Linked DNA regions of Homo sapiens: all the other regions are linked to region 2. Evidence: fine-mapped expression QTL. A gene starts in region 2. Each other region holds a variant in brackets. All regions are shown on one strand. Distances are between the middles of the regions.

Region 1 (2,674 bases), 31 kb before region 2:
TCACAGTCCTGGCTGGATTCTCTGCATTCAGTGGCAGACAGAAAAGAAAAAGGGTATAGAATTGCATGAGATGATTTTTTTATGGGCCAGGCCTAGAAACTGGGCACATCATCTCCATCCACATTTCCTTTGCCAGAACTAAGCATTGGCCATATCTAACTGCAAAAAGGAACAAAAAAATGTATTCCAGCCATGTTTGGGGGTGAACAACCACCTTGCCATCCATATTCTCATTTTCATCCATCCCAGCATCTGATCACTTACCTCCTGACTCTCCAGTTCATACCACCCAGTGTCCCAACTCCAACAAGCCTTCAACCCACTGGGAACGACCATCCTCTTCTCTCACCACCTTCAACCCACTGGGAGCCCCATCACTGCTCCCACCACCTTCAACCCACTGGCAGCACCCATCCACTGATCCCACCACCTTTTGCTGACCCTCACTATCTTCCCTTTTCAGCTTCCTTTCATTACCTGGGCAATTATCATGATGGCCCCCTTGCATCTAATCTCTATTTCTTTGTCTCTCTGTAGCTTTCCCACTTGGCAACACCTCAACCCTGTTTAAATCTAGCAAACTGTGTCTGCACCCGAACAGCCAAACGTGGCTAGCGAAAAACTCATAACTACATGCACCAGTCCCACTTTATGTTTGTGATAGTGAACATCATGAGTGCTTGGTGCAGCCAGGCAACTGTGTTCATTTCCCTGGTCTATGGACTCTCCCACTCTCCTAGACATCCACATAATACCTTATCCACTCTCCTTAAGCCTCTGATATCTTCTCTCCAGTTCTTAGTTTCCTATTTCACAGGGAAAATTGAAGCCATCAGGAAAATCATTAGACTCATACCTGCCAGCATCATCACCCACATGTGCCGCCTCCCACCTGACACAATAGCTGGCCTGTCTGTGCACCCATCTAATGCCAACCTCCCACCTGCATATAGATCCCATCTCATCCCACCTACTCTAGGGCATTGCTCCAGCAGCTCTCCTTTCTCTCTGGCATCAACAATTCCTCTTCTCATTGTATTATTCTCATCTTCACACAAAAATGCTATTATCACTCTCACTTAAAAAATGAAAAACAAAAAAAAAACCCTCTTGACCCAGTTCCCTATGAACTACTGCCTGTTCCTCTCTTCTGTCTCCAGTTCCTCCCTTCCCTTCTCTGTTAACCCATCCAAGTGGGCTTTAACACCTCTACTCTTGTCAGGGTAACAAATGGCCTCCCCATTACTAAATCCAATGGTCACTTCTCAGTCCTCCTTTAACTCGACCCCTAGCAGCATTTGGTACTGGCCTCCTTGCTCTCTTCCTCACCATCCTCACCACACTTGCTGCCAGGACACCACATTGCCCTGAGTTTCCTTTCACCTCACCTGTAGTTCCTCATCACTCTACTTTGCTGATCCCTCCTTGTCCCCCAGACCTCTGGGGGTGCCGTAGAGCTTGGTCCTTGCACTTTTTCACTTCTCCATCTGCACCCCGCCTTCACCCATTTCATGTAGTCTCTGGCTTTTAACACCATCTGTACCCCAATGGTCCCTCGTATGCCCCCCCAGCCCAGATACCTCTCCCAACTCCAAATGCTCAGGTCCAACGCCTCCTGGATGTCTTCGCTTGGGGATCAAACTCAAGTCACCGAAAGCAAACTTTAATATTCTTC[C/G]CCAAACAGTTTCCACCCACAATCTTCCCATCTGGAAAATAACTCTATCCTTTCAGTTGCCCAGGAAAAAATGAAAAAGCAAACAAAAACCCCAAACCAAACCCAACAATAACAACAAAAGCCTTAGAGTCACTAATTCCACACTTTCTCTTATACCGCATGTCAACACATCAGGAAATCCTGCTGAATTTTTCTCCAAAATATATTCACATGTCTCCATGTCCACTGCCACCATCTTCGTTTAAGCCACTGGGGCTCTCCCTGGATTCCCACTAGAGCCTCTTCTCTTGCATCCTTCTCCCTTGCACCCTTGCCTTCCTATGATCTATTCTCAATGCTGCAGCTGGAGTGATCTGGTTATAATATGAATCCTATACCTCCTCTGCCCCTGACACCCCAGTAGCTTTCTATCACACTCAATGTAAAAGCCAGAGTCCCGAAATGACCTACAAGGTCATTTTCTCTTTGACCTCATTCCCTAGTCCTCAACTTCACTTCGCTGAGACCACTCTGGCCTCATTGCTGTTCCTCAGATACATCTTGTATACTTCATGGCCTTTGCACTGGCTAGTCCTTCTGCCTGTATGTGAGGCTCCCAGTATCCACATAGTAAAACTCCTGCTCCTTCTTCAGGCATCTCTCGATGAGTCTCCTTAACCATCTTACTTAAAATAGTTTTAAGTAACATTTTATCACATTCTAACACTTTATGATTTACTTCTTACTATGTTTACTTTTTTATGGCCTGTCTCTTCCCCTTAGAATGTAAGCTCCAATAGCATAGGGATTTTTATCTGTTTTTTTTTTCACTACGATATTCTAATACCTACAGCAGCGCTCAATAAACACATGTTGAATAAATGAATGAATTAAATCATACGTCAATAGTCCTTAGCCCAATGCTATGTACTCAGAAAGTACTCAATAAATTTTCATTACGCAAGAAAATTAAACCACTCTACAATCTTTATTTTAAAATGGTTATGTTTTGTTTGAGAA
Region 2 (2,674 bases):
AGTTTGTCAATCCTACTCTGAAGAAAAAACGGGGCTGTGGGAACTTGCTTTCCCAGAGACAATCTGCAATGGGTGGGGCAAAGGCAAAGAAGGGGCCACCACCCCCAGAAAGGTCTATCCAGATTTTCCTCAGCCTCTTCTTTGGTTATACTCCAACTCTGATTACCAAATCTTTGAGACCCTCAGCCAACAGGCCACTTGGCCTTGAAGAGTCATTTTTATCTGCAGGGATCTCCCACCCACAGGCCTCCACTTGGCCTGCCCTCACTGGAGGAAACAAACACACCAGTGCTCTGTTAACCAGCTGCAGTGTTGGGCTTACAGGTTATTTTAACTCCACTATGAATCAGAACAGAATTATGAACAATTTACATGAGACTTGTCACATCTTGTTTCAGTCTTTCTTTGGCTCATAGTTTTCCTTGTTTGGCCTTTCAAATACTTATACGTCTGATTATTTTCAAGTCTGGAAGACTACATAGGTAGCATTACACAGATATGGCTTCTCATGGCTGACATCTCAGGAAGCTCTCAAATTCACAACCCCACATGTCAAAAGTAAGGAAACAGAGAAAGCTTCCAAAAAGGCAGGGCAGAGCTGGGTAGAGCATCTCAGCTGGCACCCAGGCTGAGTAATTCTTCTCTGTGTCTTAGCATGCCATATACAGAGGCCTGAGGCCAAATGGATTTCCACAACAACTTCTGCAGCCTAATTAAGACCCATCCTGTTTGCACACGGGAACTTTGTAGGGTAGACAACTGTTAATAAGAAAGAAATAAAGTATTTTTTTAGAAAAATACTCCTGCCCTAAAGCAGATGTTAAACAACCAGGCTCCCAAAAGAATCTTGTATAAATGATCCTCTAAGCATGAGTTAGAATCTCTACTTCAAATGAGAGAAATATTCTCTGGAGATTTCCCCTAACTGAGGCAATGAATGCTCCCATGAGCTTCCTGGGCACAAGAGATACCCCAGAACACTGGTATTTCTTCTAAGAAGGCAGAGTTCAAGTGCTCTGTAGAGTGATAAAACTTACCACGTTCTCTTCCTCCGATGCTTGATTCCACCCGGGGTTCACAATAAGTCTGTGCAATGTGTTTGTTGAAAAACTGGTTCTCACTTTCTTCCAGGTGTGCAGGGTTTCTGAGCCAGGAGCAGTTGAGGAGTGGGAAGAACATCTGGAAAGACTGGGAGTAAGGACGCCCCATCTGATGGAAGAAAGGAAACACATGCCCACCCATTTTTGCACCTGGGTCTTTCATTTGCCTTTACACTGGACTCTTGCAAGCCCTAAGCAGGACATTGCATCAAGCTAATGGGCTTGTGTTGAGGTCTCTTTCAACTCACCCCAAGCCTTGGGAGAGTCATATTTCTGACAACTAAATTCATGAAGTCTTCCTAAGCCTCTTTTAAATCATGATTCTCCCTTTGAAACAATAGGCACACACATTAAAGTCCAAATAGTCATTAACCTTTATCACCATTCACTAGGAGGTCAGAACAGAAGAGCACCATGTAGGAATGGACAGCCTTGTGGGTGTCGTGGATGCATGGTCCCATCTGGAACCCTGGGGCACAGATATCATGAGCAGAGGAGGCAGCAGGGCCAGGGGTGGATGCGAATTCTGCCTCTACCACTTCTAACCAGTACACCCTGGGCAGTGTACTTGACTGCTTTGTTCTTCAGTCTCCTCCTCTGTGAGGTTGAGATAATGGTAGCAACTAATTTAGGAGATTATTGTGAGAATTAAATGAGATTGTCTATGTCATAATAGGTATGCAATAAGTGCCTAATATATGTTGATTTTTTACTCTGTTTTCTAGAGAAGACAGATGTAGAATTTAGTCTTCATGATGGGTGGCTTCTGAAGATGTCAAAAGGGACAATGCCTCAGAGGCTGGCAGCCCCCTGACATGGTGAAATAGGCAGCCGTGTGGTCAGGCCAGGGCACAAGATTCACACACTCCCTCTCTCCCTCAGTAATGCTCAGGTTGTCTACAGGAAACATCCTATAGTCCTACATATCTTGTTCCCCACGTTGAACAAAGTGAGGAGAAAGACATAAAAGGATTTCTCTGCTCTTGCTCAGTTTTCATCTCATGAAAGAATAAGACTTGCCTCAAATTTCATGAGTGTACAGTCGAGTTCTTACCTGGCAGAACTAATCTTCTGGGGGAACAATAATAGGTCATGTTAATTAAGTACTCATTCTCCTAAGTATATTTTTTATTATCTCATTTTTTTCTCATAGCAACCCTCTAAAGAGGGTCTATTGTCATCCCCATCTTACAGAGGAAACTGAGCACAGAATGGTAACTTGCCCAAGGTCATCATTTAGCCAGAACTTAAACCCATTGGGTCAAACTCCAGCACCCACTATACAAAGCTGTCTCATCTCAACCAGCCCTCTCTCCTTCTGACTCACTTCGGTATTTCATTTTTTAATTGACATTTGCTAAGAAGGTCAAATGGATGACGAAGGATGTTGTTGAGCACTCATTTTAGCAAAGTTGTATCTAGCACTTAATCATGTGACCAATTGCTGTACTAAGACTAGGGGATAAAGGGAGGGGAGGACATGCAGTCCATGTCCCTAATGAACATTCCATCTCCTTGATTGGCGGGGGAGAGAGAGAAAGAGAGAGAGAGGCCACATGAAAGAAAAATAACAA
Region 3 (2,674 bases), 89 kb after region 2:
ATGTACTTAAAGCAACTTTAAAAAACACAATACTGCACATTATCTCAGTTAAAAAGTATGTAGAACTAGAGTACTGAATACATTTTTAAATAAAAACACTTCAACATTTATATCACTGTCAAAATTAAGACTACTAGTAATAAGAGCACCTTGTGCTCATGGGAGAGCACAAGGTAATAGGGTCTTAGATCTAAAATCCAATGGAATTGTACTTGACATTCAACAAACAAAGGCAGTTTATGGTGCTGCTAAAAATGGAAAATACTATGAATCTTTCATGAGACAGGCAAAAATAATAGCAGCTAACATTTATTGTTAGCCATGTGTCAAGCACTGATATTACAGAGAATTGACCTGTGCCTCAGTTTTCTTATCTGTGAAATGGGGACATTACATATTTCACGGGGTTGTATAAGGATTAAATAATAAACACAAGATATTTGGAAGAGTGCTATAATAGGCAAGCGCTCGATAAATATTACCTATTATTACCATTTGGGATGGGACAGCCAAGAATCCAAGGGTAGTGTGACTACCGAGAACGGTAAGATGAGATTGGTCTGTGGAAGGAACCTCCTTAAGGGCAGGACCTGCCACTTGTCCAGGGACCAAGTCAGGAGTGCACTTGACCTCACAACCACGAGGGCTTTATATTTAGAAGCCCACATCCTCAAATCATAGGTACTAAATTTAAAACTCAATTTCAGAGATTCAGGTCTTCTTTTGTCAGGGAACGTGACCTTGACTCCAGAAAAACACTCAACCACATGCTCCTTATTCTGAAGCCTGGTATGGATGCAAATGTGGCTTGGCCAATGTTCACCTGAACCACAGTGTCCTAGGACTTCTCAAAGGCATCTTACATACTAGTCTGGGGCCTGGGATGCAAAGAACAACAAATCAGAGGCAGTTATGTGGGCAAGAATAAAAAGAGGGTAATGTCTTCAAGAACCCTTAAAGCAACACATTCAAGAAATGAGGTGTATACACAACCAGGGAATCTCCATTTTGCAACCATTGCACACTGAGCCCCCAGCAGGGAGGTGGACAAGTCAGGTTAACTAGCTGCAGACTGTTAGGTTTTCAAAACCTAAAGAAAGGTAGAATTAAGACTATGCAATGTAGAAAAAAGGATAAATATATCAACCCAAACAGCAAAGAAACAAAACTAACCAAAGACTTACAGTACCTGGCTGCTCTGTGACATCTACTTTCGCAATATTAACCTCAAGATCTTCTCCCCATTCAGCAAAACTTTCCCATTCCGGTTGAAGATTTTGACAAGCAGGGCACCACGGGGCATAACTAAGAAATACAGATTTTTTTT[T/A]AAAAAAAGTTAAGCACTTTAGTATGACCATTTATCTTGGGATAAAAAATTTAAATGTATAATTTATGAAGAATATTTCATATGAAAACACTGAAGATGATAAGGTGGTTAATTTTATGCAGATGAAAAACTTTTAAGGGTAGATCTAACAATCCGGAAATCAAGAATGATGAACTGATGATGCTAATCAAATAAAATTCTGAGAATAAGACACAGGATTTTTTCACATGCAAAACAGCTCTTTAGAAAACTTTTGCATTTCTCTATTAACGGTGTGGCCACCAGAAAGCTCAAGACCAAAGTTAGAGCTTACCAATTTTAATAATTTATAATGCAGAGTCACAAATGCAAGGTGTTGGAAAAACAGAAGTGTCCTGGGCTGTGGTGAATAAGAAAGCACATATTCCATCTTAAAGTGGCAACCATTATTAAGTAGGATTGCCACTAAGGATGCTGGCACACTAAGGCTGGCTATTCATATTTAAAAGAAGATGGAGAGCTGCATTTTTATATGAGAATGTTACCTCAAAAAATAACCCACACACAAATACTAAGCAGGCCAAACAAAACTCTTGGCCAGTTAGGTCATCCTGTTTCCAAGACCTTGGATTTACAAATGCAAGCATATTAGCATTTAAATTACTCCTCTGGTATTATCTCCTGAGGATCTTATTTTTCCACTTTATTGTATTTTATCTTATAATACACCACAGGGTTGTTCTTTTTTTTTTTTTTTTTTTAACAGAACCAGGAAGAATAAAGCCTAAAGCAGTTAAACACAAAACTATACTTTCTGTACTTCACATTTTCTTCACTTGTTTTATGAAAACCAAACTCCTAAAATAGACATTGTAGAACAAGACAAACTGGTAGTATAAAAGCCAAGCTCCTAACAATAAATCGTATTACAATGAAAATATCTCCATGACAAAACTTCTGAGCAGAAATGGATTTACTGTAGATAATTCACTTGTAATTAGGAGCAGACTATTACTAAAACTACTAGAGTCCTTCTTTTTCAGGTTCGTTTTGTTGCTCAGTTGCTTTTTTATTTTTTGAAACAGGGTCTCGCTTTGTTACCCAGGCTGGAGGGCAGTGGCGCCATCTGGGCTCACTGCAACCTCAACCTCCCGGGCTCAAGACATCCTCCCACCTCAGCCCAAGTAGCTGGGACTACAGATGCCTGCCCACACGCCCAGCTAATTTTTCGTATTTTTTTGTAGAGACTGGTTTTTGCCATGTTGCCCAGGCTGTCAGTTGCTTTCTAAAAACTTACTTTAGAATCTCTACTTAAGGAAAAAGAAAAACTACTACTCTATAGCATAATTTCAGATAGATGCTCCAATG

Direction of the effects. Alleles are on the strand shown, and positions count from the first base shown. SD is a standard deviation of normalised expression in the study named. Not every link is listed here.
As copies of C replace G in region 1, the expression in unexposed skin of the gene that starts at base 1,209 in region 2 goes down (small effect, 0.17 SD a copy in GTEx).

The links. PIP is the estimated chance that this variant, and not a neighbour inherited with it, causes the effect.
Region 1: its variant is fine-mapped to the expression of LINC00640 in unexposed skin (GTEx, PIP 0.94).
Region 3: its variant is fine-mapped to the expression of LINC00640 in whole blood (TOPMed, PIP 0.98).

The regions. Positions count from the first base shown.
Region 1 is chr14:51,362,710-51,365,383 of GRCh38, reverse strand. It overlaps LINC00640 (long intergenic non-protein coding RNA 640), which reads right to left. Exons shown (of 5, transcript NR_038358.1): 5 at 1-21. Among named protein-coding and RNA genes, the nearest start is that of LINC00640, 31 kb to the right of the region's middle. The variant C/G (reference allele first, on the strand shown) is at 1,676.
Region 2 is chr14:51,331,928-51,334,601 of GRCh38, reverse strand. It overlaps LINC00640 (long intergenic non-protein coding RNA 640), which reads right to left and starts at 1,209. Exons shown (of 5, transcript NR_038358.1): 1 at 1,038-1,209. It overlaps LOC124900595 (a long non-coding RNA gene), which reads left to right. Exons shown (of 3, transcript XR_943854.3): 3 at 1,132-1,203.
Region 3 is chr14:51,242,487-51,245,160 of GRCh38, reverse strand. TMX1 (thioredoxin related transmembrane protein 1) reads right to left here. Exons shown (of 8, transcript NM_030755.5): 2 at 1,190-1,305. LOC124900346 (small nucleolar RNA SNORA70) reads right to left here and starts at 1,071; the gene lies at 937-1,071. The variant T/A (reference allele first, on the strand shown) is at 1,328.